Homo sapiens: one gene and its partners. The protein of the gene in region 1 purifies or fractionates together with the protein of each later gene. This does not show direct contact. Each region holds a gene or a part of one and is shown in the gene's direction. Other genes may lie near its edges. The genes, in order: SLC9D1, DCAF8, HEMK1, TAP2, FADS1, GUF1 and DNAAF5.

Region 1 (4,073 bases):
AGACCCAGGAGGAGGGGCCGTGGCTAGAAGACTGGGTGGCCAGAGAAGGCAGCCCTCAAGCGCAAGAGAACCCCGGGTCGTGGCAAGAGAAAAAAGGCCAGTGTTTACATTTGTGTTTCTGGGTCAGGTAGAGACAGTGGTTTGTGAACGGCAGAAAGGTCATGGGCCTGCTCCGTGCACCTAACCCTGGGGTCTGGGTCCTTCCGATCAAGAGGAGGCCTCTGGGCTGCCGGGCTTCCTCCGAGGGCTGACATGCATCACTGGGCAGCTCCAGGCTGTGGCTGGAGAGCTGAGCCCAAGCTCAGGTCCAGCCCCAGCACCGCCGGCCCCTCTGCGTCACTCGGCAGCACAGCAGGACTGAGCAGCCCAGTCCGAGAGTCCTGAGAGCAGAGAGAAGAAATATGTGGAGACAACGTTTCCCATTGTTTTTAAAAATGTGTGAGCCAAATAAAGGAAGGAAAGGAACATTGACCACAGGCGTCCTGTGAGCGTGGCACTCCTGGGCACTCCTGGGCACTGTGGGGCTGTGGGCTCTGGGATCATCTGCACCTCAGCTGGAATATTTCCTGAAGGAGTGCCAGACCGAGTGCCGCCTCTGTGTGTTTTGCTGTGTCCTCTGCAGTTGAGGCCTGTTGCAGGGAGTGGAGCTGGGATCCCACCACATCAGACAGGTCATCCCAGGGCAGGCTTTTCCCCGGTTCGCTCAGGAAAGGGGCGGCTTTTTAGCATTTGCTGTTGCTTTCACACGTGCACTTGGGAGGATTTAGGATTTTAATTCCTGTATTGAAGCAAGTGACACACTGAAGTTGTGAGAAATAGTGTGCGCTGGGGGAGGCTGTCCTGCGGTCGTAACGTGTCTGTCCTGTTCCCAACAGGGCTCCACGTGTTCCCCACGTTTGTGGCGTACGAGCTCACGGTGCTGGTGTTCCTCACCTTGTCAGTGGTGGTGATGAAGGTATGGACTGGAAGGGTCCACGCCCCTCGCAGTTTGCAGGCTCAGCATAGCCCTCCCTGTGGCCCTGGTTTCCAGTGGGGCCCACATCGGGCCTGCAGAGCCGGCCCTGCTCCTCATCTCGGAGGAGGCCCACTGGGCCACTGGACCCCGGGGGAGGCAGATGTAGACGAGGCTGGGCGGTCTGGGTTTGTCCATGTGATCGATTGTTTCAGAATTGAGCGTGTTTAAAGGGGGGAACTAACCTTTTGGGACCCTCAGGACGGGCCTTGGCTGCAGTCCAGCCCGTCCTCCTCTGACAGATGCAGACATGCTTTTTAAAGACTGGAAAATGGTGTAGGCACTTTCTGTCTGTCCCCCGTGACTGCCAGTGATCGAGCTGCCTGTGTCCACATTTAATTGAAGGTGTGATGACCTAGTCAGCAACCAGTGGCTTTCTGGCTCATAGACAGTGACTTAGGTCATTTCCGTTTTAAGGAGCCAGAAGCTGTGATGATCGTTGGACCACTCCACCAGCTCTTAGCTACTCGGCCCAAAGACACACCACCAGCTCTTAGCTGCTCGGCCCAGAGACACACATCTCTCTGTATTAAAAAGAAATTTCCACCTTGAGTACCCCACGCTTAATGCTATTAATCTAGTTTGGTTGGGGCGGGGGCGGGGGGGCTTGGGCAAGGCTTATTATTTTCTGCTAATGAACCGAAAGGCTTAATTTTGCCTTATTGTTCAGTGTGGATTATTTAAGAGGTTTTGCGTGTATTTGGTGCCTTCGGGTGTTTGGAGTGCTTCTGTGCCTTTCCCTACTTGACGTGTTATTCAGGGACCATCGCAGCGTGCCTGTGGCTCGTCTGGGTTCTCTGTTTCGTGTGTGTTTAACTCTGTGTGGGTCCAGTCTTCAGCAGTGACGTAATGAACCGCTCTTGCAGTTTCTCCTGGCGGCGCTGGTCCTGTCTCTCATTCTGCCGAGGAGCAGCCAGTACATCAAGTGGATCGTCTCTGCGGGGCTTGCCCAGGTCAGCGAGTTTTCCTTTGTCCTGGGGAGCCGGGCGCGAAGAGCGGGCGTCATCTCTCGGGAGGTGAGTGGCTTCCCCCCGCGGAGCGCTTCTCGGGCGGCACGGGCTGCACTCTGGGTTTGAGTCGGGTGTGGCGAAGGCGGCTCGGCAGCACAGCGGGGCCTGGGGGCAGGGTCCTCCTCCAGGGGGGCACGCAGAGGCCTGGCTGCTCTCTGCTCATCCAGCATGTGGCGTTTTCAGAGGAAAGTTGCAGTTAGTACTGCTTGAACTATTGCATTAACCTTTTACAACAAGTCTAATTAAATGTCAGATATTTCTTCTGAAAGAAAACTAACTTTTTAAAGCTGAACTGCCAGTGTGCACATAAGTAGCACCCCAGAAACGTGAAATACCCGTAATGGCAGTGTGCCCGGAGAGCTGGGTGGAGGTTCCTGTGGACACTGAGATGGCCCTGGGCATTCGGACTCACGGCCTTGTCTCCTTGCATTGTGTAAGTGTGAGGCGGGTAGAAGTCCAGGTGTTGAGTGCAGTGGAAGTAATTGCTGAAAGGTAGAATTGCTTACAGGAAGCTCCACCTGAGGCCTGACCCAAGGCCGCATCCCCAGGGTCAGGGAAGCTGTGGGGCAGGCTGGCTTGTTACTGTGGCCCGGGGTTGGCCTTCAGGCAAACACAGGCTAAAGCTGTTATCCTGTGGCCCATCAGGACTAACCATGCATCACTGATCTTGAAATCACAGTCTCTCCTACATCCCAATGTCCTCAGCTTCTGGCTGTACTTCCATGTGCTTTAAAGAGATAGTAGTGAATTTATGATGTGCAGGCGTCCCTCCCAGCACTCGGCATGACCGCGCTTAGCTTCCATCCCCCACCCCCCCGTGCAGGCATCCCTCCCAGCACTCAGCGTGACTGTGCTCAGCCTCAGGACTCTAGCTTTGCAGGCGTCCCTCCCAGCTCAGTGAGACCAGCCCTGTGCTTTCCTGTTGCAGGTGCTAGTCCTGACAGTCTCTGTGACCCGCTCTGCACTTTGCTGTTGCAGGTGTACCTCCTTATACTGAGTGTGACCACGCTCAGCCTCTTGCTCGCCCCGGTGCTGTGGAGAGCTGCAATCACGAGGTGTGTGCCCAGACCGGAGAGACGGTCCAGCCTCTGATGGCTCGGAGATGATGGACCGTGGAAGGGAAGCGTCTGTGGGGAGTGAGCGCTTAGATGGCCAGCAGCTGCTCCTTCTGGGAAGCTCGCACCTTGGCAACAGAACAGCCCTCTAGCAGAGCGTCAGTGCAGTCGTGTTATCCCGGCTTTTACAGAATATTCTTGTCCTATTTTAGAATTTTCCGGAGTAGTTTATTTGCAGTCTGTTGATTATGTGCAGTAGACCCGGGACACTGCGTTTTACCGATCACCTTGAATGTGGTGCCTGGATGTGCCTTTTTTTTTTTTCCCTGAAATTATTATTAATTTTCTATTGTGAGTTCATCAGTTCATAGTTTTTTTAGTAAAGAAGCAAAATTAAAAGGCTTTTAAAAATGTACAACTTCAGAATTATAATCTGTTAGTCAAATATTTGTTATTAAACATTTCTGTAATATGAAGTTGTAATCCTGGCCGTGAGCTTGGAAGCTTACTTTTGATTCTTAAAGCCTATGTTTTCTAAAATGAGACAAATACGGATGTCTATTTGCCTTTTATTGTAACTTTTAAATGAAATAATTTCATGTCAATTTCTATTAGATATATCACTTAAAATATTTGGTTTTAAATCACAAGAATATGTATTCTTTAATAAAGATAATTTATGATCATGGTATAATTAATTGAAATTTATTAAAATCTGTTTTTATTAATTTTTTTGTATTGAGCTTATCTTTATACAAAATTCCAGCCAATTTTTTTTTTTACTAAGATGATTTCTATATTAACATGCTATTCTCCAAGACACCAAATTAATGCAGTGTTAATTGATAAGTTCTAACTTTTGATATTTAAATATCTATTTTGGTGATTATGTGCCCCAGTTTAGAAAACCACACAGGTGAGGATCTGAGCCTCACAAGGACTTCCCTAAGAGGCATTGTGCTCATCTGTTTTGTGCTGCTGTAATAGAATGCCTGA
Region 2 (4,073 bases), on another chromosome or scaffold:
TTTTGGTGTTTTATTTTTTCTTTTCTACAGACCTGTTAGGTTGGTGTTTCAGTCCCTGCTCACCACTCCCAAGCTCAAGCCCAGCTGCATTTCAAAAAACTGTAACTGCTAAACTTTCGTAGCATATATAACAGGCTCAGCAAATGTGGTCCTTGGGTTCAAATTTCTGTACTTCATAACTTTTTCTTCCAGCCCCTAGCCCAGTTGTTTTATACTGTGCTCTTAGTTGAGGCTTTTTTTTTTTTTTTTGAGACAGAGTTTTGCTCTTGTTACCAAGCTGGAGTACGGTGGCACAATCTCGGCTCACTGCAGCCTCCACCTCCCAGGTTCAAGCGATTCTTCTGCCTCAGCCTCCCAAGTAGCTGGGATTACAGGCACATGCCACCACGCCCGGCTAATTTTTTGTATTTCTAGTAGAAATGGGGGTTTCACCATGTTAGCCGGGCTGGTCTTGAACTCCTGACCTTAGGTGATCCACCCGCCTTGGCCTCCCAAAGCGCTGGGATTACAGGTGTTAGCCACCGCGCCCAGCCTGCAAGAACTGTTTATGTCTTCTGGGCTTCTGTTACTGCTTGAATCAAAGCACTTGTATTGTTGATCTTTTTTCAGTATTGGGTTTTGCTTAAGAGTACATTGCTTCAGAGCTCTTCACAAATTACTGCTCTAATCCACATGACTAGGCAATAAGGTGCTCCACCTTTGAATCCTTAAACATCAGTGTGGTATTGGAGTTGAATAGCTCATACTGGATGGTCTGCCTTTCCTGACAGCTTTTACTTCTGGCGGATAAAATTTATAGCCATCTGAGGAAAGGAGGCCCATGAGCAGCATTTAAAATCTTTATTCTCCCCTTTTTTCTTCACACCTTGACTTAGGTTGGAAGTTGTGGTTGTATTGGCTTTAGAACATTCCTCAAGTTCTCATTGGAATTGACTTGACTGTTGTGAGTTAAGAGAATGCAGTATGTAGTTATAGGAGATAAGATCGATAAAAGTGACCTAGTTATTTAACTATCAGCATAGCAGACCTAGAATATACTGAACTTTCGTCTTAGGCACCACTATAGTAGCCCAGCTTTTTATCAATTTTATATATGCTTCCTAATAAAACTGTCTCAATAGAGAGACTAAAAATGTGTGACTAAGAATTATATTAAAAAATTCAAACTAATGGAAGTAAGTCAAAATATATTTACTAGCAAAAGGTGAGCAAGAACCCACTCAAATGATCACAATTCCCACTTACCCCTTCAGCTTGCTTTCTTAGTGAATTTTAGAAACTTAGGTGGGGAAGAAGCTTAGGATTTAGGTGACAGAAGGTGTAGTGGTACTTTCTTTTTTTTGAGATGGAGTCTCGCTTTGTCGCCCAGGCTAGAGTGCAGTGGTGCGACTTTGGCTCACTGCAAGCTCTGCCTCCTGGGTTCATGCCATTCTACTGCCTCATCCTCCTGAGTAGCTGGGACTACAGGCGCCCGGCTAATTTTTTGTATTTTTAGTAGAGACGGGGTTTCACCATGTTAGCCAGGATGGTCTCGATCTCCTAACCTCGTGATCCACGTGCCTCGGCCTCCCAAAGTGCTGGGATTACAGGCGTGAGCCACCGTGCCTGGCCTGATACTTTCTTAAAGTAGGAAATGGTGCAACACCACATCCATAAGTCAAGAGTGATTTTTATCAGCTGGTTTCCGTCTTTCGCTAAGAAGATGGCTATGCTAGCTCTTGCTGGAGTTGGCTCTTCTTTTTATATTCTGTTTAATTATTTGCTATAACTTAATAAATGCCCATCCAATACAACAGAGCCAATGGTAGATGTATCAGGCACACTTTTATACAATATGCCAATGTTTTGCCTCTTGAGAACTTAATATAATCTTAGATTGTCCTGAGATTCTTTGCTTTTGTTGAAGTATTTTATGTGTGTGGATTTGATCTTAATCTTTTCAATTTCTTGTCCTTTACAAGATTTCCCCTCAGAGGGTACTCTCTGTAATTATTTGTAATGAAAACACTTGGACCAAAGTTCATTTTTTGGTCTTTTGATGTGAAGATTTCTTAGACTAAGGTGGTCACTATCCTGTTTTCTTATTTTTCCCTCTCCTCTACTCCTTCCTCACTAACATGCAGGAAGCCTGTCTAGCAGTCCAGAGGAGATGTCTGGAGCTGAAGAGGGGAGGGAGACATCCTCAGGCATTGAAGTGGAGGCCTCAGACCTGAGTTTGAGCTTGACTGGGGATGATGGTGGCCCCAACCGCACCAGCACAGAAAGTCGAGGCACAGACACAGAGAGCTCAGGTGAAGATAAGGACTCTGACAGCATGGAGGACACTGGTCATTACTCCATTAATGATGAAAATCGAGTCCATGACCGCTCAGAGGAAGAGGAAGAGGAGGAAGAAGAGGAGGAAGAAGAGCAGCCTCGGCGCCGTGTACAGCGCAAGCGGGCTAACCGTGACCAGGACTCATCAGATGATGAGCGGGCCCTAGAGGACTGGGTGTCCTCAGAAACATCAGCTCTACCCCGACCTCGCTGGCAAGCCCTCCCTGCCCTTCGGGAGCGGGAGCTGGGTTCAAGTGCCCGCTTTGTCTATGAGGCCTGTGGGGCAAGAGTCTTTGTGCAGCGTTTCCGCCTGCAGCATGGGCTTGAGGGCCATACTGGTTGTGTCAATACCCTGCACTTTAACCAGCGCGGCACCTGGCTGGCCAGTGGCAGCGATGACCTGAAGGTGGTGGTGTGGGATTGGGTACGGCGGCAGCCAGTACTGGACTTTGAGAGTGGCCACAAAAGTAATGTGTTCCAGGTGAGGCAAGGGAGCATAATAGCAACTGAGAGAATCAGGCATGAGTTAGAGAAATCTGAACTGCAGCATGGATTGGGAGCTGATAGTGAGTTATTGTAGGAATTACATATCGGGACATGGCCCTACTTTGGCTCCCCTAATGACCTAAATACACTGAAAGACTCTTGGCAACCCTAGATTCCTTGAGCATGTGGACTGTTGGAAGCCTCATAGGTAGGGTGCATGCAGCTTATTAAATGTGTGCTGGTAGGAGGCAGTGTAGTATAAGCACAGGCTCTTGAACCAAACTGCCTGAGTTCAAATCCTAGCCCTTCTGCTTACTAGCTCAGTGATCTTGGCCAAGTTATTTTACCTTTGTCTTCAGTTTATCTGTAAAATGGGACTAATAACACATAGGGTTATGAGGATTAAGTAACAATAGAAGCTAAGCAGTTAGAACTGTGACTGGTACTTAATAAACATTTGATAAATGTTAGCTTATACTGTTGTTATTCTGGAAAGATTTTACTCCTTGGCCCCATCTACTGTACTGGTACCAGCCATTTATCCTAAGGGTGTTCTCTTTTCTTCCCTGACATTCCCCCTATTTTCCTTTTTCTTTGTAGCAAATTTATATTTACTTTCTTAATCAAAGTAGATTTTTCCTCCTCTATTCCTTTTCTCCTCTGCTAGATACAGTCCTAGTTCATCTGAGCTCTTATCATGTGCCAGTTCAATCTTCCAGAGCCAACTGAAATGCTCTCTTACATCAAAGGAAGTTTTTTCTCTCCCTTTCCTTTAACTCCTGGAAGAAATTGGGCTTAGCCAGCTGTACAAGAGTAGGAAAGCTAAGTTTCCAGCTGTCATGTAAGAAAAGGGGGTAAGTTGAGGTCATCATCGTATTTTTTATTCTCAAGTTTACCTCTCTCATTTCTTTTGTGTGTCCTTTTTTTCATTTTTAACACCCCAGGCCAAGTTTCTTCCTAACAGTGGTGATTCTACTCTGGCCATGTGTGCCCGTGACGGGCAGGTTCGAGTAGCAGAACTGTCTGCCACACAGTGTTGCAAGAATACAAAACGTGTGGCCCAGCACAAGGGAGCGTCCCACAAGGTAAGTAAGACCTTGCTCCAAAATTTGTGCAATCCAAATCCTCTGTGGTTCTCAGCCAAGGTTCTCCCTTATCTCTGCCCATTGTGTCACATTTGTTGTGGTCATGTGCCTCACCTCTTTCAGTCCTAAGATTTGTGGTTAAGAAAGGAGCAAAAGCAGCCACCCTAAACTCCTAGGAAGGCAAGT
Region 3 (4,073 bases), on another chromosome or scaffold:
CTATCAACCCAGCCTCTAGGTCTGGCAATGGCCCAGAGTGCCTCAAATAGTGCTGCCCAAGTACTTAGCCTGTTCTGCCATTTCTCTGGGAGCCATCCCATGGCTCACCCAACCCACAGGGAACAAATGTCTTCCAGCAGCTTCTCAGGAGGCATGGAGGAAGTGGAGAGGGCTCCAGCCGGACACCTGGAGACCTGGTATCAGCTGTGCAACCTTGGGCAGGTCACTGCCCTCCTGCCATCTCTGGGCCCAGATGATGAGAGGGTTAGCCCTCCAGCCCAGAGAATCTGGTGGCCCTCTTAGGTCTACTGACTGGTCTGGTAATCACCTGTGTTGTCCCTCAAATTACTAGGACTAGGGATGTGTGGCGCAAGTGTGTTATCCCTTGGTAAGGCACCCTGGTCCTGGAAGAGACGCTTTATATGGCCCTTCTTGGACTCCCCTCTGACCTTGTAGATGACAGAGCTGGGAGCCAGAGGGCGCAGACCAGGGAGTAGAGCTGGGTGAGAGCTGGTGGGCAAGCCAGAGGGCGCCAGGTTCTGAGAAGGAGTGTTTCTAGAAAGACCTAGGCACACAAACATTTCTGGGAAAGGTTAGTTCCCATTCCCCTGCTGTGGCCAGGGGGCCCCAAACCCTTCTTTCACTTTCTCAGCTTCTGTCCCCTAGCCAAGAAACTCTCTGACCCCTCTCCTCTCCATATCATGTGGTTGGGAGGCCAGGTCCTTGCTTCACTGCCCAGTGTCAGGGCAGGGACAGTAGGGAATCTGAGGCCTTGCTGAAGTCACAGGGCTGTCAAGGAAGGGAGCATGGGGGCAGCACGTGGACTTCCTGACTCCCAGCTCAGAGCCCCATCCCTCACATGGGGCTGCCCCATCTGGGATTGGCATGACCTAGGACACAGTATGGAGACCCAGAGCAGGGTGTGGCCTGCCACCTGCAGACTTTGGGAGGCTTACCTGTGGCTCCTGAAAACACGTGATCTCTGGCGAAGAGATCATTTGCTGTCTCCGGCTTCCCAGGGTCAGGGCATGGTGACTTTTGAGTTCCTTCAGAGCTGACCTGGCACCAGCCATATGTGCCAGGGTTCTGAGTATCAAGTGTGGACTTTGGCTCCCATGTGGCCCCCTGATTCTTGGATGGGTCTGGGCCAAGAGAGCAGCTCTACTGCAAGGGGTGGGGTGAGGGGAGATGCTGCGATTGGGAGGCCAGGTGCTCATCTTGCTGTGCAGACATTTCTGAGAACTCACCAGGTTCACCCCAATGTAAAGCCACATCGGGGGATGCCTTACCAAGAACTCAAGAGGACGTGGCCTGTGGCAGGGAGTAGTGAGAATGGGTGCAGGGGATGGTTTCTGATGAAAGGGGAGTCTGAAGTGCAAACTTGCAGGAGGCATGTGCCCAGTGAGTTGCATTTTCCCTAAGGGTGAGAAGGTGGTTCAGCCCCTGGCCTGGCAGTGAATACAGTAGGAAACTCAGGGCTGGGGGTGTGAACCATTCTCACCCAGCCTGCTGTGAGGCTGTACAGGTTGTGGGAGGCTCAGTGTTTTGTCTGTGATTGGCTTGAAGGAGGCAATGCCACCTCCCTGGGTCTGCCCCACCAGGGATGCCATCCTAATAGAGGGTACTCATGGGCACTTAGGTTCTGCCCAGGCCTTGGGCCAGCCTCTTGATGGGGTATGGAGTCCATGTTGGGGCAGCAGTTCTAGGCAGAGCCAACAACTGCCTGCCCCTCACCTCTTTCCCGCATGCGTCTGTGCCCCACCCTGTTCTTGGATTCTTACCATATTCACCTGGAGGGGGTGCCCTGAGCCTGTGACCAGCATGGCTTTTAGTCTTGCCGAAAGAGCCACCAGCGTTAGGCTGAGGGAGGCTCTTCACTAGGAGGAGAAGAGAAAGTTTCTGGACTCCTTGGGCTGTTATCTACCCCTGCCCCAGGTGGCTCTACAACCAAGATGAGTTTCCGGTGCTCTGGAGTGTTATGGCAAACAAGAGGCCACTAGTGGTGGCAGGGGCTCAGTTTCTTAGCTTCTTACCCTCCCCAAGGTGGCCATCCACATACGTGGTGTGTGTCTTTGAGGTCTTTGAGTATCTCTGTGAGGTGGCTGGCCAGTGTGGCTGGCTGAGGGGTCATTCTCCAGCCAGAGTAGGTCTGTCTATGACCAGGAAACCAAGAGAGGCTTACACACCTGACAACAACTGGTCACCCTACCAACCTCTCAGCTTGTGGCCTCACCACTGAGACCACAGGCTCTCAGCCACAGCCCTATACTGCTCACTCTGTACCTGGCCCAACCTTGCAGGCTAAGCTTGCCACAAGTACCTTAGTGGTCTCCAGTAGTGCCTGGCACAGGGCTGGTGAGAGCTAGTGAATACACACTCTCTCCTGCTGGAACTGGGCCCCCTCACCCACAGGCAATCATTTGTTAGGTGCAGAAGAGGCTTGGAACATGGAGGGTTGGACCTGCTGGCCAAGTTCTGCCTGCTTTGGACTTGCCACCCTCAGGGTGGGTGAACATTGTTGCTGGGTTTGGGGGCCTGGAAGGGTGAGATGCTTTTTGGAACCCAGCACTGGGGAACTTATGTGGAAAATGGGTGTGAGTGATCTGGAGCCCTCTGCTCCATTGGGCCTGGCTGATGGCATTGGGGTGTGGGGGAGACCTGGGGGTGTGAGACTCAGAGGGTGGTGCCACAGAGAGCTTGCCCATCACTTAGAAAGTAGCCAAGAGGGCCAGGCGCTGTGGCTTACACCTGTAATCCCAGCACTTTGGGAGGCTGAGGCGGGTAGATCACCTGAGGTCGGGAGTTCGAGACCAGCCTGACCAACGTGGAGAAACCCTGTCTCTACTAAAAATACAAAATTAGCCAGGCACAATGGTGCATGCCTGTAATCCCAGCTACTTGGGAAGGCTGAGACAGGCGAATCGCTTGAACTTGGGAGGCGGAGGTTGCGGTGAGCCAAGATCGCGCCATTGTACTCCAGCCTGGGCAACAGAGCGAAACTCTGTCTCAAAAAAAAAAAGAAAAGAAAAGAAAAAAAGAAAGTAGCCAAGAGGTTTGTCTGTGGGCCAAGCCCTGCCAGTGTGGGACACACTGCGATGAGTCAGACCTCAGGTCTTCCTATTATGGCGTCTGGTGGGAGAGGCACACCCCATCCTTAGGCTAGACCTTAGGCTCAGGGTGGAGAAAGCCGTGGTAGAGCCTGGCCCAGGCTTGAGGAAGGCTTTCTGGAATAGGTAGTCCTCTTTTCAGATCAGGGAAGCACCCACTTGCTGCCCACCATCCCCAGCTCCCTGAGCCAGTCTTTCCTGAGACCTGGGGTCCCAGGAGTCCTGACCCTCTGGGGGGCTTCTCTGCCCACATCCAAAGGGATGCCTTTGAGAAGGAGCTACACTGCCCTTTCCTTGTCTCATGCCTGGCTACTCAGGTGTCCCACTCCACTGCTGGTTAGAAAAATTTTGGCCATTGGACGGCAGGAGCCTTCCACCCTTTACCCCTACCCTATGTTGGTTTACAGGCATAGTCCTTGCAGGCAGTGGCTGGGTAGGCAAGGCTTGAAACCCTCTTGTTTCCAAAGTGACAGTGTCTGAAAATGTCCTCCTGCTGCCAGGGCAGGTACAGTGCAGTCAGGCACCTCCCTCTGCACCCATGCCTGTTGACCTATGCCTGTGTATGCCACAGCCCTCAGGTCCTTAGTCAGGACCATGTCCCCCCATGGCCCATCTCCTCCAAAAGAGGGAATTCCCTGTCCCTTTGGCCTAGGAGCCTCCCTGGGGGCCTCTCAAGCCCAGCTCTGTGAGGAGGCTGGGGACACACCAGCTCCTGATTCTTGGCCACCATGAAACCACAGGCCAGGCTCAGGTGGGGCCTTGACCCCAGGCCTCAGTTTCCTCATGGGACACTTGTGAGGATTTAACAGATTAATACAGGAAAAACTCTGGGAGCAGGGTCAGGCCAGAGGGAGTGGACAGGAACTATCAGGTATGGTTCTTAGCTTTTTTCTTTTGAGATGGAGTGTTGCTCTGTCTCCCAGGCTGGAGTGCAGTGGCGCGATCCTGATCCACTGCAACCTCTAC
Region 4 (4,073 bases), on another chromosome or scaffold:
TTGGGTATGGGGCAGGAAGGAGACCAAGGCGGAGGAGACGCACAGAGGGACAAGCCTGAGGGACGCTGGGACAGAAGCAAGCACTGGGATACTTGTTTTCACAATATCTTTTCCCTTCTATTGTAGTTTTCTATTGTGTCTAGTACAGAGTGCACTCCATAAATACTTGTAAATTTGTACATGTTATGATTTTGTTCTCACATCTAGCTCACCATGTCTCCTCTTTCTTCTTCCTCTGTGTATTCCTTACCTCTTCTCTCTCTGTGTGTCTGTCTCTCATTTCTTTCTCTTTTGCCCCTCCTGGCATGCTTTCCCCTGACTTTGCGCTTCTCTGCACTCCTGGCTTGCTCCTCTGTTTCACCCGCTGGCTTGCTCCTTCTCTGCATCTCCCTCCCCTCTTATTCTCCTACCCCACAGCTCACTGTCTGCAGGCTGCCGAGGAGGCTGCTTCACCTACACCATGTCTCGAATCAACTTGCGGATCCGGGAGCAGCTTTTCTCCTCCCTGCTGCGCCAGGACCTCGGTTTCTTCCAGGAGACTAAGACAGGTGGGGCCTGGAGTCCAGGTCTGAGATTCCCATGGACATCCCTTGCCCCTCAGTGACCTTCCACCCACAGCCTCTCCTCCTGCCTTCACCCGTATGCCAGGACTTGGGGATGCTTTTCTCTTGTTTGGGACAGGGTGGAGAAGCAGCCTCCACTGTCCCTCTGCAAGTGAAGGAGGATGTTCAGAGGAGGGGGCTGTGTCAGAGGGAACGGTCAGGAGGGAGTTTCTGGGGGCCCTGCAGTACACATGGTTTCCTTTTTCCTCACCTGCTCTGTCCTTCTTAGGGGAGCTGAACTCACGGCTGAGCTCGGATACCACCCTGATGAGTAACTGGCTTCCTTTAAATGCCAATGTGCTCTTGCGAAGCCTGGTGAAAGTGGTGGGGCTGTATGGCTTCATGCTCAGCATATCGCCTCGACTCACCCTCCTTTCTCTGCTGCACATGCCCTTCACAATAGCAGCGGAGAAGGTGTACAACACCCGCCATCAGGTGAGCGTGCATGTAAGGGAACCCCAAAGGGAGAATAAAACTGACAGGTGAGGAGGCTTCCACATTTGTGGCTAGAGGATCCCCTAGAGAGAGATGTTCTCTTCTCAGCCATTAGGGGAGAAGGTATATTGTAGTATATACTACATTTTGTTTGTCCAGCCATCCAACAATGGATATTTGACTTCAGAAGATTCATGATTCTCCAGAACTGTAAACAAAAATGTAAAGTGTATGTGAAGGTATGGGGGAGGGAATAGGAAGGGGAGATGATAGGCGATGATAACTTTTCATTAGCTTCTCAAAGGAGTCTGTACATCCCCCGCCCCCACTGCGAAGATTAAAAATGGTTTCTTAGAGGCTTTTAGGCAGGGAGATTTTCCCTTTAAAATCAGCAGAAGAAGTCTGGATGCAGCATAGGGAAAGGAGGCGTCATCAGGAAGTCCTAAGTCTGAATGTCAGCTCCACCTTCTCTTTTTCTCTTATATTGTGGTAAAACATACATAACATAAAATTTACCATTTCAACCATTTGAAGTGTACAGTTCAGTGACATTTAGGAAACCCACATTGTTATTGGGTAACCATCATCACCATCCATCTCCAGAACTTTTTTCATCTTCCTAAAATGAAACTCTGTACCCACTAAATAGTAACTGCCTACTACCCCCAACCCCTGGCCGCTGGCAACCTCCATTGTACCTTCTGTCTCCATGAATTGTGATGACTCCCGGTGCGGTACGTAAGTGGAACCATACAGTATTTGTCTTTTTGTGACTGGCATATTTTACTTAGCGTAATGTCTTCAGGCCTCATCCATATTGTAGCATGTGTTAGAATTTCCTCCCTTTTAAGGCTGAATAATATTCTGTTGTGTGCATATATCACATTTTGATTATCCATTCATCTGTCAATGGACATTTGCGTTGTTTCCACCTTTTGGCTGTTGTGAATTATGCTGCTGTGGACATGAGTGTACACCTGTTTGAAACCCTGCTTTTGGTTCTTTTGGGTATATACTTAGAAGTGGAGCTGCTGGATCATATGGCAATTCTATTTAACAATTTTTGAGGAACCATGTATTAGTCCATTTTTACGCTGCTGATAAAGACATACCCAAGATTGGGCAATTTACAAAAGAAAGAGGTTTATTGGACTTACAGTTCCATGTGGCTGGGAAGACCTCAAATCATGGCGGAAGGTGAAAGACACATTTCACATGGCAGCAGACAAGAGAAAAGACAGCTTGTGCAGGGGAATTCCCCTTTTTAAAACCATTATATCTCGTGAGACTTATTCAATATCACAAGAACAGCATGGGAAAGACTTGCCCTCATGATTCAATTACCTCCTACCCAGTCCCTCCCACAACACATGGGAATTCAAGATCAGATATGGGTAGGGACACAGCCAGATCGTATCAAACCACCATACAGTTTTCCATAGCGGCAGCACCATTTTAAATTCCCACCAGCAGTGCATAAGGTTTCCAATTTCTCCACATCCTCATCAACACCACTTTCTGTTGTCTTTTTTTTTAATAGCCATTCTAATGGTGATTAGGTGATTAGGATTATCTCATTGTGGTTTTGATTTGCATTTCCCTAATGATTAGTAAATATTGAGCATCTTTTCGTGTGATTTTGGCCACTTATGTTTCTTTCTTGAAAGAATGTCTGCAAGTTCTTTGCCCATTTTCTGATTTTTTTTTAAGTTGTGGGAGTTCACTATATGTTTTGCCTATTAATTTCCTATCAGATATATGATTCACAAATATTTTCTTGTATTTCATGGTTGCTTTTTCACTCTGTTGCTAGAGTTCTTTGATGCACAAACGTTTTAAATTCTGATGAAGTCTGATTTATCTATTTTTTGTTGCCTGTGCGTTTGGTGTTATATCCAAGAAATCACTGCCAAATCTAGTGGCATGAGGCTTTTCTTCTACATTTTCCTAGGAGTTTTATAGTGTTAGCTCTTATGTTTAGGCCTCTGATCCATTTGGAATTACATCTCCACCTTTCTTAACTATCTGTGGCTCCTTGGGAAAACTACCCTTCTTTCCTGATTCAGACACTGGGGATGGGAAAATTACCTCAAATGAAGGTTAAAAAAATTGCATGTATCTCCTATACTACCTAACACTGAGAGCTCAATAATATTTTGTTCCCTTGCTCCTTCACTCTTATTCCTTCTGGAAAGAAGAGTAAGGAAGAGGGAGAGAAACAGTTTGGTATTTTTAGGTAGACTAGGGAGCATCTCACTGGCTGGAGTAAGATGTGGGGGCCTGCTGTCTTTGCACATCAGCCCTGGTGTTTGCTGGCCCTCTTTTCCAGGAAGTGCTTCGGGAGATCCAGGATGCAGTGGCCAGGGCGGGGCAGGTGGTGCGGGAAGCCGTTGGAGGGCTGCAGACCGTTCGCAGTTTTGGGGCCGAGGAGCATGAAGTCTGTCGCTATAAAGAGGCCCTTGAACAATGTCGGCAGCTGTATTGGCGGAGAGACCTGGAACGCGCCTTGTACCTGCTCGTAAGGAGGGTAAGATACCAGAGTGGTTGTGAAAGGAGCCCAGGAAAGGGGGAGGGCAAGGGAAGAGGAAACTACAGCTGGTTCTAGAGGCCTTTGCAGCTCAGTCTCATAGAGGCAGAGAGGGGGAAAGAATGGGAAGATTCCCAGCCTCATCTCTTTCTTCTCCTCTTCCAGGTGCTGCACTTGGGGGTGCAGATGCTGATGCTGAGCTGTGGGCTGCAGCAGATGCAGGATGGGGAGCTCACCCAGGGCAGCCTGCTTTCCTTTATGATCTACCAGGAGAGCGTGGGGAGCTATGTGCAGGTGAGCGAGAAGCCAAGCCTGCTCTCCTTTTTTCCCTCTCTTTTTCTTTGTGGACTCCTGGGCCTTGGGCTTTATTTGTTCTTTTTAACAATACAATACAAAACCAAAACCCGCAAGTAATTTTGCTATGGAGAATTTTAAACATATGCCAAAAATGAGACAAAATAATATTACAAACTCACATGTATACATCCTGTGCTTTAACAATGATCAAC
Region 5 (4,073 bases), on another chromosome or scaffold:
GACACACCCAGGGGAAAGGCCAGCCCAGGCAGGTGTTTCTTAGTGGTTCCCCTCAGCCAATGCTTCCCATTCCTTGATGCATCCTTCTAACTAGAGCAGATACTCGGTGATCTTAAACTGTGGACACCTGGGAGCACCCTCAAAAGGCAGCTGGGCCTAGGGAGATGGCCTGTGCTTCTGTGTCAGGAGTTGGTTCCTTCAGGTGGGCTCGTGGTCTCGCTGACGTCAAGAATGAAGCCATGAACCTTCGCGGTGAGTGTTACAGCTCTTACAGGTGGCGTGGACCCAAAGAGTGAGCAGCAGCAAGATTTATTGTGAAGAGCAAAGAACAAAGCTTCCACAGCGTGGAAGGGTACCCGAGCAGGTTGCCGCTGCTGGACGTTGGGGGGTGTGAGGGGGAGCAGCCTTTTTTTTTTTTTTTTTTTTTGAGACGGAGTCTCCCTGTCGCCCAGGCTGGAGTGCAGTGGCGCGATCTCGGCTCACTGCAGGCTCCGCCCTCCCCCGGGGTTCACGCCATTCTCCTGCCTCAGCCTCCCGAGTAGCTGGGACTACAGGCGCCCGCTACCTCGCCCGGCTAATTTTTTGTATTTTTAGTAGAGACGGGGTTTCACTGTGTTAGCCAGGATGGTCTCGATCTCCTGACCTCGTGATCCACCCGCCTTGGCCTCCCAAAGTGCTGGGATTACAGGCGTGAGCCACCGCGCCCGGCCGGGAGCAGCTTTTATTCCCTTATTTGTCCCTGCCCATGTCCTGCTGATTTGTCCATTTTATAGAGCACTGATTGGTCCATTTTACAGGGTGCTGATTGGTCCATTTTACCTCTAGCTAGCTAAAGAGCACGGATTGGTGCATTTTACAAACCTCTAGCTACAGAAAAGTTCTCCAAGTCTGCACTCGACCCAGGAAGTCCATCTGGCTTCACCTCTCACTTCAACTTGGGTACAGCCTTCTGGCGGGCAGGAGGATGGCCTTTGGTGCGAACACTGCCGGAGTCCAGGGGGCTGGCTCCCTCACCTTTCATCTTCTCCCGGCACTTGCAGGATCCCTTTGTGGCCTTCCACATCAACAAGGGCCTTGTGAAGAAGTATATGAACTCTCTCCTGATTGGAGAACTGTCTCCAGAGCAGCCCAGCTTTGAGCCCACCAAGAATGTAAGACCCTGTGTTTGCTATGTCGCAACTATTGGTTGTTGAGGGGGACAGAGAGGGGGTGGAAGGAGAGTCTAGATGGGATCACAGTCATAGTAATCACAGTCAGTAGTAGCTCTGGGGAGTCTTGAGGTCCCTGCTTCTCTTGCATAGTCATGAGGTCACAGGCCCAAGGGAGCATGGCTTTGCAACCTATGGCTCCCCCAAGGCTGCCACTACCATGGCTGCCATCATTGTTATCATCATTGTTATCATATGAGCACTTACTATGCACCAAGCATAAACTCATAACTCTTACACATTTACAGATGAGATAACAGGCTCAGGGAGGTTAAGCAACACAGCCAAGGATCACACAGTTAGTAAATGGCAGAGCAAGGACTTAGTCCCCTGAACTCTTAGGCACTATCCCATGGCACCTCCTCCTGTCATCCTCATTGTCGTGGTATCTTTGCCTAGGACTGTGGACTTCCCACAGCTACCTCAGTGGGAGGTCCTTGAGCCTGAGAGGGCCCTTGTCTCCAGTAGCATTGGGGTGCAGATGAGAAGAATAACAGCTCCTCTTCCTCTTCTGCAGAAAGAGCTGACAGATGAGTTCCGGGAGCTGCGGGCCACAGTGGAGCGGATGGGGCTCATGAAGGCCAACCATGTCTTCTTCCTGCTGTACCTGCTGCACATCTTGCTGCTGGATGGTGCAGCCTGGCTCACCCTTTGGGTCTTTGGGACGTCCTTTTTGCCCTTCCTCCTCTGTGCGGTGCTGCTCAGTGCAGTTCAGGTGAGAGCCTTTGGCTTGTCAAGTGCACAGCAATGCTCAGCATCCCTGGGGAAAGCTCCTTGGGTGTTTGAGGAAGGCCAAGAGTGCCTGCCCTCCAAGCAGGGCAGATCTGAAGGTATGCAGGAGTGAGTGCAGGAACATGCATTCTGCTGTCTTGACCTGTCTGCTCTTTAGCCACATGGACATCTTCATTTCTCTCACTGCCTTTTTAGCTGCTTCTCCAAGGGTTCTCTTCTTCCTATGCGGTTTGTTCTCTGCCACAGCCCACCTGTGCCAGGAGCCAAGTTTCTGGTTTCTTAGCAAAGCTTGGCTCCCTCCCCACCACTGACATTGCCCAATATGTTAATAATGATTGAGCGCTAATTCTTGACTGTCAGGACCCATTTGGCAAGCCTTCTGCTCATGTTTCAGTCCTTTCTGTATTCTAGATGTCAGTCCATCATAAGTCATGAGCTTCAGGCCAGGTGTGGTGACTCATGTCTGTAATCCTAGCACTTTGGGAGGCCAAGGTGGCCGGATCACTTGATCTCAGTTCAAGACCAGCCTGGCCAACGTGGTGAAACCTCTACTAAAAATACAAAAAGGCCAGGCACAGTGGCTCACGCCTGTAATACCAGTACCTTGGGAGGCCAAGATGGGCAGATCATTTGAGGTGAGGAGTTCAAGACCACCTGGCCAACATGGTGAAACCCCGTCTCTATTAAAATACAACAGTTAGCTGGGAGTGGTGGTGGGTGCCTGTAATCCCAGCTACATGGGAGGCTGAGGCAGGAGAATTGCTTGAACCTGGGAAGCGAAGGTTGCAGTGAGCCGAGTTGGCACCATTGCACTCCAGCCTGGGCAACAGAGCGACACTCTCAAAACAGGCCAGGTATGGTGGCTCACGCCTGTTATCCCAGCAGTTTGGGAGGCCAAGGTGGGCAGATCACCTGAGGTCAGGAGTTCGAGACCAGCCTGGCTAACATGGTGAAACCTCGACTCTTACTAAAAATACAAAAAAATCAGCCAGGCTTGGTGGCGGGCACCTGTAATCCCAGCTACTTGGGAGGCTGAGGCAGGAGAATTACTTGAACCCAGGAGGCGGAGGTTGCAGTGATCTGAAACCGCACCATTGCACTCCAGCCTGGGCAACAAGAACAAAACTGTCTCAAAAAAAAAAAGTCATGAGCTTCGGAGCTGGCGAAACAGAAGAACAGAGAAGGGATGGTGATTTGCCCCAACTCACGTGTGAGTCAGTGGCAGAGGCAGAACTAGGACCCATGTTTCCTGACTCCTGAGGTGCATCACAGGCCTTGGCAGATGAAGGAAGTGGGAGAGGCTGAAGGAGGCATCGAGGTCAGTGAAGGCGACACTGGGGCTGGTGGGCTGCTCTCAGTGTTGACTCTTCTCACCTAGGCCCAGGCTGGCTGGCTGCAGCATGACTTTGGGCACCTGTCGGTCTTCAGCACCTCAAAGTGGAACCATCTGCTACATCATTTTGTGATTGGCCACCTGAAGGTCAGTGGGATGGGGAGGAGCTCTCTAAAACTCCAGGCAATGAAGGGCTGCCTTGGGGGAAGCTTTTCATACTCGTGTCCCTGCTTTTCTGTAGGGGGCCCCCGCCAGTTGGTGGAACCACATGCACTTCCAGCACCATGCCAAGCCCAACTGCTTCCGCAAAGACCCAGACATCAACATGCATCCCTTCTTCTTTGCCTTGGGGAAGATCCTCTCTGTGGAGGTGCGTGGAGGTATCAGTGGAAAGGTCTTGGGGAATAGGAGGCAGCCAACATAGGGGAGTTGGGGAAGATGCCCACGATGTTGTCAGTGTGGGCAAGACACTGGGGCTGGGCTGGCTGGGGCTTTTGCCATTTTGGAAGTTCTGGAAGGCAACAGGCAATAGATGGGGGCTGCCCAGGAGGGAGTCACCATCCTCCCTAGAGAGTTCAGTCAGCAAACCGTTACTGCATAAAAGGCACCTCATTTTGCAAAGGATCCAGCGGATGACCAGAAGGATCCAAATGATGAGATAGCCTATCCTTGAAGGTGCTGATGGCACCTCCTGGAGGTGCTTTTTTGACACTCTTGCCCCAGGCAAGTATTCCCCTTGCACTTTGTATTTCTCTCCCACACTTAGGTATCCTTCTTGTCACAGTCTTCTCTGTCCAGGG
Region 6 (4,073 bases), on another chromosome or scaffold:
TTCTGGATATGCTAGGTAAAAAAATAATGAGAACCTAAGATGCCTGACCAACTTTTTTGAAATATTGATGAGCAAGGGTATACTAATTCTTCATTTATTTAGTAATTTCAGCTTTCTTGAAGATAGTTGAGAATCATACTCTAAGGTTAGAATGACTTGGAACAACTTTATAGGTGTTACAGACTACTTGTGATTTGCTTATAGGAGAAAAGTTTCCTTTGATTTATTATCTAACTTTTATTTCTCTTTTAACAAAAAAAGTTAGTCCCCTTTTCATGAAGAGCTGTATTCCTTGTCTGTTAAGAATTAGACCTAATTTCAAAAATTTACCATAACCTCAGTGGCACTTTTAAAATGTATATTTATGTTATGCAATCTCAAGAGCATCTATTTACATTTGAAAAATAAAAGTGCATATTCAGTCTGTAAAAAATGTTAGATGTGCCGCTCCATTAGTGAACACTTTAATAACTTAGTCTTTTGAGGAACAGGTTGTCCTCATCACGAAAACCTTTGTGTATCTCATAGGAGTACATGGAGAAAAGCCAGATAAAAGTGAAAGGAGAGTTACTATTAAATAACAAATAAGAAACTCAGGGCATAGCATTCTGAGAGGCTGTTTTTTGTTGTTGTTGTTGTTGTTGGGGCATATAACTCTAGATACCCTCACTATGCCCTAAAATCTTATGTTACGGGATAGTATATATAGAAAACAGATGTGAAACATGGGGAAGCAGGAGGGGAAAAATGAACATTGACATCTATAAAACTCCCACACAGTGCATGAATGTTAATGTTAACATGCAGAGACAAATTCCAGTGTTTAACAAACATGCTACAGTGACTTGGAAGTTTAACTTTATTTAATCATCTTGTCAGTGAAGAGAGTTAGCATATATAATTCTTCTTACCAAGGAATCTTCATGTTCCTTTGTATTGAGAATTTTCTTCTACTTTGTCACCCAGTTTTTTCTTCTTCTATGTCTTCTTTCAGACAAGACCTTGAGCAAGTAAGTGGCAATGGAATTTAAAGTAAAATGAATTGAGGGGCATATTAAAATTACTAGAGTTGAAAGGAAGATTAGTAGGTTTAATGTTTATAAATATTTTTAACAGAAGTCTGTCAATTTTAGTTTGCATTTGGGTACTACTTTCTGAATTATAAGTGGTCTTAAAAAGCCTTGTCGTTTGGAAACTTAAATACATTTTGAATTTAATGAGAGAACATGATTTATTTTTGAACTACATAAAAATAAAATATTCCAGCTTCCAGCATTAAGGTAATTATGTTCAAGATGGATGTTTTACATAGGCAGTCAATTCCACACTTAACAGAAAGTCATCATAGACTATGAATTAAGATCAGGAAAAAACTTATTTCATACCAGGAGGCAAGAATCAACAGCAACTAGTAGCTTTTTGGAATTACAAATGTGTTTCCTGCATTCTAAGGAAACACTAGAATACCTATGTTTTCAATAGAGGTTAGGTATCAATTGGACTGCTTGGAAACAAAAACACAATTTTTATAATGATTTCTTTTGAAAAAATGAGTTAAGAAATTTTTAAGATTTTTAATATTTTGGACCACAACATAGCTGGAGCTGTAACAACTTCAAAGTTAAGGACCATGTCTGTTTTATTCTCTATTTGCTTTGTATTCTGTATGATACTTAACATGGTATCTTTCATACAGTAAATGTATAAGTGATGCTTCCTGAAGAAAGAAAGGATTTTAACAGTACTTCTGAAAATAATCTGTTAATAGAGTGTATTATTGTCACTTTATGACCTTCCTGCTGAAAATCTTTAGAAACCAAATATAATTTTGCAAGTCCAGGCACCAATTGTTTTAAAATTAAGACAATAGGAGTATACATATTCTTGTCTGTGATTGGGACAACTTGTAAGCCTAATTGAAATTTTCTTTAGACTTCAGTTTTATAAGTGAAACATTTAAATGTCTGTTTTGACTAACATTACAAGCTTTGACCACATTGTTAAAAGTAATAGCTGAAACTAAGTGCTTGTGTGTGCTAAGCTAGGCTCTGTTTAAACACTTATTATGTACTAGGCATTGCTCTAATTGGTTTACATGTATTAACTCATTTAATCCTCACAAAAGCCCTGTGAAGGGAGATGCAAGCTGAAGAGCCAAATAGGAAATCCAAAGGTCTCATTTATTAATGGCATTTTATGAGTGTCATAGCATTTATTTAAACATAGAGTTGTCATTGGTAATAGAAAGTTAAACAGAAACCCAACTCATGAATCTGAAAATGATCCATTAATAATATATAGTATTGTCCGAAGCCTCCCAGCTGCTGGGAACATTGGGAAGGCATGATATTTGTCTTCAATAAACCATTTTCTTTGTCAGGTTCACCAGCTTATTTTCCTTTCCCCTATAAACATATTCCCCTTGCTTTTGCCCTTGATTTAATAAACATAAAAAGATAACATTTAGATCCATTCACAAGAAACTGTATATGTAATATTTTGATGGAAACATATCTCTTTGGGGAGTGTAATGCGGTAGAAAGTAGACATTTAGTAAAGAGTAAAGAGTAATAAAGGTAATCTCTCAGGAAGTGTAATATTTATCACTTGGACTTTTTTCCTTTTAGTTTTGATTACGAAGATGCAGGCTACCAGACTGCAGAACTTGTAAAAATGGATATTCTACTGAATGGAAATACTGTAGAGGAGCTAGTAACTGTTGTACACAAGTAAGTTCAATAGAAACTAATCATGGAATGTGAAAATACTTTTGATATGTTTTTCATTTATTTTTGTTTGAGCAGCTGCATTTAAAAAACTTCTAAGGTAATTAAAATAGAGTTCACCCTACTAACTTTGCTTTCTCTTTTTTTTCCACACTTCTCTCTAGACTGCTAAAAATAGAACAGAGCTATAATAGTCAAAAAGAACAGTGTCATAGAAATGTTTCCCTTCACCATATTAAAAAAAGTTTTAAACATTTTATAATGATGGATTTAGAATTGGGAACAAGTTTTTTTGTTTTGTTTTGTTTTTTTTTTAGATGGGAGTCTCATTCTGTTGCCAGGCTGGAGTGCAGTGGCGCAATTTCTGCTCACTGCAACCTCCGCCTCCCGGGTTCAAGCAATTCTCCTGCCTCAGCCTCCTGAGTAGCTGGGACTACAAGCGCATGCTACCATGCCCGGCTAATTTTTGTATTTTTAGTAGAGATGGGGTTTCACCATATTGGCCAGGATGGTCTCGATCTCTTGACCTCTGATCTGCCCGCCTCGGCCTCCCAAAGTGCTGGATTTACAGGCGTAAGCCACCGCGCCCTTTTATATTTGTAAAAAAATTATAAAAAGGAAAACCCCCACGTGTTCAAGAAACAGCAGATTGGTTAAAATGAATTACAAAGCACCCATATTGTTATTTTCAGCCATTAAAACTTGTGGAGTAATATTTAGTGACATAAAAATGTCTGTTAAATATAAAGAGGGTAGAATATATCGTAAACACTGATCATACAAAAAAATGCAAAAAAGTGATTAGAAAGATAACTGTTTAAAATAATCATTCCAAAATGTTTAACCGTTTTCAGCGGGTAAGGAAAGAGAATCAAGAACAGTTTCTATTGTCTAATGTTGTATTTCTAAATATTCTGTAATCATACATTACTTTTTTAAATCAGAGAAGTTGTTCATGATTCAGAGAGTAAGAGAGATTTATAAGTAAGTTCCATTTGAACCTCCTTAAGAGATCACCTTTACACTGATTATGCAACTGGCCTAGAAAAATACTTGAAATATTCTTATTTAGGATATATAAACAGTTGTATTTTTCTGTCTCAGAGACAAAGCTCATTCAATTGGCAAAGCCATATGTGAACGGCTGAAGGATTCTCTTCCTAGGCAACTGTTTGAGATAGCAATTCAAGCTGCTATTGGAAGTAAAATCATTGCAAGAGAAACGTGAGTTGAAATTCATTTTTGGTCTTGAGCCAGTTTCAGAAATGATATACCTAAAAAGTGAAAGAATATTGAACATTTTAATTTAACATTGGCCTAAGCTTTCTTACTTGTAGAAACAGTATG
Region 7 (4,073 bases), on another chromosome or scaffold:
TAAGTTCACTGTAAATGTATGGATTTAATTTCTGGCTTCTCTATTCTGTTCCATTGGTCTGTGTGTCTGTTTTTATGCCAGTGCCAAGCTGTTCTGGTCGCTGTAGCTCTGTAGTATAAATTGAAGTCAGGTAATGTGATCCCTCCAGTTTTTTGTTTGTTTTTGTCTTGTTTTGTTTTTTGCTCAGGATGGCTTTGGCTATTCAACGTCTTTCGAGGTTCCATATAAATTTAGGATTATTTTTTCTATTTCTGTGAAGAATGTCATTGGTATTTTGATAGGGATTGCGTTGAGTCTGTAAATTGCTTTGGGTAGTATGGACATTTTGGGTAGTATGGACAATATTGATTCTTCCAGTCCATGGAGTATGTTACCATTTTTTGTGTGTGTCCTCTTCAGTTTTCTCATGTCAGTGGTTTATAGTTTTCTTTCTTTTTTTTGAGACAGTCTCGCTCTGTCATCCAGGGTGGAGTGCAGTGGTGCGATCTCTGCTTACTGCAAGCTCCGCCTCCCAGGTTCACGCCATTCTCCTTCCTCAGCCTCCCGAGTAGCTGGGACTACAGGTGCCTGCCACCGCACCTGGCTAATTTTTTGTGTTTTTAGTAGAGACAGTTTCACCATGTTAGCCAGGATGGTCTCAATCTCCTGACTTCGTGATCCGACTGCCTCAGCCTCCCAAAGTGCTGGGATTACAGGTGTGAGCCACTGCGCCTGGCCTTATAGTTTTCATTGTAGAGATCTTTCACTTCTTTGGTTAAGTTAATTCCTAGGTATCTTATTTTGTTTGTAGCTATTGTAAATGGAATTACTTTCTTGATTTCTTTTTCAGATTTGTTAACTGTTGGCATGTAGAAATGCTACTGGGGCTTTTTTGGTGATTTTGTATCCTGCAACTTTACTGAATTTGTTTATCTGTTCTAATAGGTTTTTTGTGGAATCTTTAGGTTTTTCCAAATGTAAGATTATATCATCTGCAAACAAGAATAATTATCTTCCTTTTCAATTTGGATTCCCTTTATTTTTCTTGTCTAATTGTTCTAGCTAGAGCTTCCAGTACTGTGTTAACTAACAGTGGTGAAAGCGAGCATCCTTGTCTTGCTCCAGATTTAGAAGAAAGGCTTTCAATTTTTCCCCATTCAGTGTGGTACTAGCTGTGAGTCTTGTATATGGCTTTTATTGTACTGAGGTGTGTTCCTTCTATACCCAGTTTTTTGAAGATTTTTATCATGTAGGGATGTTGAATTTTATCAATACTTTTCAGCATCACTTGAAATAATCACGTAGTTCTTGTCCTTCATTCTGCCGATATGATGTGTCACATTGATGGATTTGTGTATGTTGAGCCATCCTTGCATTCCTGGAATAAATCTCACTTGGTCATGACAAATGATCTTTCTCATGTGCTGTTGAAACAGTGGAAACTTTGCGTCAGTGTTCATCAGGGATATTGTCCTGTAGTTTTCCTTTTCGATTGCATCTGGCTGGTTCTGGTATCAGGGTAGTACTGGCCTCATAAATTAAGTTTGGAGGTATTCCTTCCTCTTCTAGTTCTTGGAATAGTTTGAGTAGGAGTGACATTAGTTCTTTAAACGTTTGATAACATTTGGCAGTGAAATATTGCGACCCGGGCTTTTCTTTGCTCAGTGGCTTTTCATTGCGGCTTCAATATCATTACTTGTTACTGGTCTGTTCAAGGTTTGGATTTATGATTTAATCTGTGTAGGTCATATGTGTCTAGGAATTTATCCATTTCTTCTAGGTTTTCCAATTTATTGGCATATAGTTGCTCACAGTATAGTTGCTCACAGTGTAGCTGCTCACGGTGTTGCTCACAGTGTCGTTGCTCATATTGTAGTTGCTCATATTGTTGCTCATAGTGTTGTTCTTCATGGTATAGCTGCTCACAGTGTCGCTGCTCACGATGTCATTGCTCACGGTGTAGTTCATGGTGTAGCTGCTCACGGTGTAGCTGCTCACAGTGTCGTTGCTCATATTGTAGTTGCTCATACTGTTGCTCATGGTGTTCTTCATGGTGTAGCTGCTCACAGTGTCGCCACTCACGATGTCATTGCTCACGGTGTAGTTCATGGTGTAGCTGCTCATGGTGTAGCTGCTCACGGTGTAGCTGCTCACGGTGTCATTGCTTATATTGTAGTTGCTCATACCGTTGCTCGTGGTGTTGTTCTTCATGGTGTAGCTGCTCACAGTGTCGCCGCTCACGATGTCATTGCTCACGGTGTAGTTCATGGTGTAGCTGCTCACGGTGTAGCTGCTCATGGTGTCGTTGCTCATATTGTAGTTGCTCATATTGCTCATGGTGTTGTTCTTCATGGTGTAGCTGCTTACAACGTCGCTGCTCACGGTGTAGTTGTTCATGGTGTAGCTGCTCCCGGTGTAGCTGCTCATGGTGTCGTTGCTCATATTGTAGTTGCTGATATTGTTGCTCACGGTTTTCTTCATGGTGTAGCTGCTCACAGTGTCGCTGCTCACGATGTCATTGCTCACAGTGTAGTTGCTCACAGTCTCTAATGATGCTTTGAATTTCTGTAGTATCAGTTGTTTGTAATGTCCTCTTCGATCTCTGATTTTATTTACTTGGGTCTTCTCTTTTTCTTAGTCTGGTTAAAGGTGTGTTGATTTTGCTTGTCCAAAAATCTAACTGTTCATTTTGTTGGTCTTTTGTATTTTTTTTAATTTCAATTTCATTTATTTCTGCTCTTATTTCTTGTCTTCTACTAATTTTGGGTTTGGTTTGCTCTTGCTTTCCTAGTTCTTTACGATGCAGTGTTAGGTTGCTGTTTGAAGTTATCTGCTCTTTGAATGTAGGTGCTAATTGCTATACACTTGCCTCTTAGTGCTGCTTTTGCTGTTTTTGCATATTGTGTTTCCATTTTCATTTAAGAATTTTTAAAATTTCCTTCTTAATTTCTTCATTGACCCACCGGTCATTCAGGAGCATATTATTTAATTTCCATGTATTTGTGTAGTTTCCAAAGTTCTTGTTATTAATTTCTAGTTTCATGTTTTAAGGCTTGTTTCGTGGCCTAACATATGGTCTGTCCTTGAAAATGATCTGTGTGCTGAGGAGAAGAATGTGTATTCTGTAGCTGTTGGATGCAATGTTCTATAAATACCTATGAGGTCCATTAGATCTATAGTACAGATTAAGTCTGATGTTTCTTTGTTGATTTTCTCTCTGGATGATTTGTCCAGTACTGGAAGTGGGGCATTGAAGCCTCTAGCTGTTACTGTGTTGGAGTCTGTCTCTCTCTTTAGCTCTAGTAATATTTGGTTTATATATCTGGATACTCCAGTGTTGGGTGCATATATATTTAAAGTTGTTATATCCTCTTGCTGAGTTGACCCCTTTATCATTATATGATGACCTTTGTCTCTTAGTATAGTTTTCGTCTTGAAATCTGTTTTGTCTTAAGTGTAGCTATTCCTGCTCTTTCTTGCTTTCCATTTGTATGGAATATCTTTTTTCGCATCCCTTTATTTTCAGCCTACGTGTGCCTTTTTAGTGACGTGTATTTCTTGTAGGCAACAGATTGCTGGGTCCTGTTTTTCTTTACCCATTCAGCCGCTCTGTCTTTTGAATGGAGAGTTTAGTCTGGTTACGTTCAATGTTGTTATTGATAAGTAAGGACTTACTCCTGCCGTTTTGTTGTTTTCTGGTTGTTTCGTGGTCTGCTCTTCCTTCCTTCTTGCCTTCTTGTTTTCCTTTTTATGAAGATGATTTTCTCTGGCGGTATGTTTTAATTTCTTTTTTGTGTGTGTGTGTATCTGTTGTGGCGTTTTTTATTTGAAGTTACCATGAGGCTTGCAAATAACATAACCCATTATTTTAAACTGATAGCTGAACACTGATTCCAAAAACAAGCAAGCCAAGAAAAAAATGAATAAAAACTCTACACCTTAATTTTATGCCCTCAGCTTTTTAACTTTTTGTTGTTTTTACTTATATCTTTGTCTTGAAAAGTCATTGTAGTTATTTTTATTTTTATTTATTTATTTATTTTTATTGTTTTATTTTTGAGATGGAGTCTCACTCTGTCACCCAGGCTGGAGTG

Evidence for each region.
Region 2: the proteins of SLC9D1 (region 1) and DCAF8 purify together in Homo sapiens (affinity purification with mass spectrometry; 2 studies listed by BioGRID and IntAct, with this or other methods). This does not show direct contact.
Region 3: the proteins of SLC9D1 (region 1) and HEMK1 purify together in Homo sapiens (affinity purification with mass spectrometry; 2 studies listed by BioGRID and IntAct, with this or other methods). This does not show direct contact.
Region 4: the proteins of SLC9D1 (region 1) and TAP2 purify together in Homo sapiens (affinity purification with mass spectrometry; 2 studies listed by BioGRID and IntAct, with this or other methods). This does not show direct contact.
Region 5: the proteins of SLC9D1 (region 1) and FADS1 purify together in Homo sapiens (affinity purification with mass spectrometry; 2 studies listed by BioGRID and IntAct, with this or other methods). This does not show direct contact.
Region 6: the proteins of SLC9D1 (region 1) and GUF1 purify together in Homo sapiens (affinity purification with mass spectrometry; 2 studies listed by BioGRID and IntAct, with this or other methods). This does not show direct contact.
Region 7: the proteins of SLC9D1 (region 1) and DNAAF5 purify together in Homo sapiens (affinity purification with mass spectrometry; 2 studies listed by BioGRID and IntAct, with this or other methods). This does not show direct contact.

Annotation. Positions count from the first base shown.
Region 1 is NC_000013.11:113,546,425-113,550,497, forward strand, and holds the end of SLC9D1 (transmembrane and coiled-coil domain-containing protein 3 isoform 1 precursor), read left to right. Parts: intron 1-875; coding exon 876-955; intron 956-1,878; coding exon 1,879-2,028; intron 2,029-3,000; coding exon 3,001-3,114; coding exon of another isoform or gene 3,115-3,128; 3' UTR 3,129-3,805; downstream 3,806-4,073. UniProt on the Homo sapiens protein: Probable Na(+)/H(+) antiporter.
Region 2 is NC_000001.11:160,238,421-160,242,493, reverse strand, and holds part of DCAF8 (DDB1- and CUL4-associated factor 8), read left to right. Parts: intron 1-2,123; coding exon 2,124-2,797; exon of another isoform or gene 2,798-3,272; intron 3,273-3,746; coding exon 3,747-3,887; intron 3,888-4,073. UniProt on the Homo sapiens protein: May function as a substrate receptor for CUL4-DDB1 E3 ubiquitin-protein ligase complex.
Region 3 is NC_000003.12:50,572,415-50,576,487, forward strand, and holds part of HEMK1 (MTRF1L release factor glutamine methyltransferase), read left to right. Parts: intron 1-956; coding exon of another isoform or gene 957-1,412; exon of another isoform or gene 1,413-2,286; intron 2,287-4,073. Other genes in the region: uncharacterized protein C3orf18, read right to left, coding at 957-1,412. UniProt on the Homo sapiens protein: N5-glutamine methyltransferase responsible for the methylation of the glutamine residue in the universally conserved GGQ motif of the mitochondrial translation release factors MTRF1, MTRF1L, MRPL58/ICT1 and MTRFR.
Region 4 is NC_000006.12:32,832,118-32,836,190, reverse strand, and holds part of TAP2 (antigen peptide transporter 2), read left to right. Parts: intron 1-417; coding exon 418-548; intron 549-831; coding exon 832-1,037; intron 1,038-3,366; coding exon 3,367-3,564; intron 3,565-3,729; coding exon 3,730-3,858; intron 3,859-4,073. UniProt on the Homo sapiens protein: ABC transporter associated with antigen processing. In complex with TAP1 mediates unidirectional translocation of peptide antigens from cytosol to endoplasmic reticulum (ER) for loading onto MHC class I (MHCI) molecules.
Region 5 is NC_000011.10:61,810,321-61,814,393, reverse strand, and holds part of FADS1 (acyl-CoA (8-3)-desaturase), read left to right. Parts: intron 1-825; exon of another isoform or gene 826-1,040; coding exon 1,041-1,151; intron 1,152-1,725; coding exon 1,726-1,923; intron 1,924-3,318; coding exon 3,319-3,420; intron 3,421-3,514; coding exon 3,515-3,643; intron 3,644-4,073.
Region 6 is NC_000004.12:44,691,785-44,695,857, forward strand, and holds part of GUF1 (translation factor GUF1, mitochondrial), read left to right. Parts: coding exon 1-15; intron 16-2,627; coding exon 2,628-2,729; intron 2,730-3,830; coding exon 3,831-3,950; intron 3,951-4,073. UniProt on the Homo sapiens protein: Promotes mitochondrial protein synthesis. May act as a fidelity factor of the translation reaction, by catalyzing a one-codon backward translocation of tRNAs on improperly translocated ribosomes. Binds to mitochondrial ribosomes in a GTP-dependent manner.
Region 7 is NC_000007.14:733,077-737,149, forward strand, and holds part of DNAAF5 (dynein axonemal assembly factor 5), read left to right. Parts: intron 1-4,073. UniProt on the Homo sapiens protein: Cytoplasmic protein involved in the delivery of the dynein machinery to the motile cilium.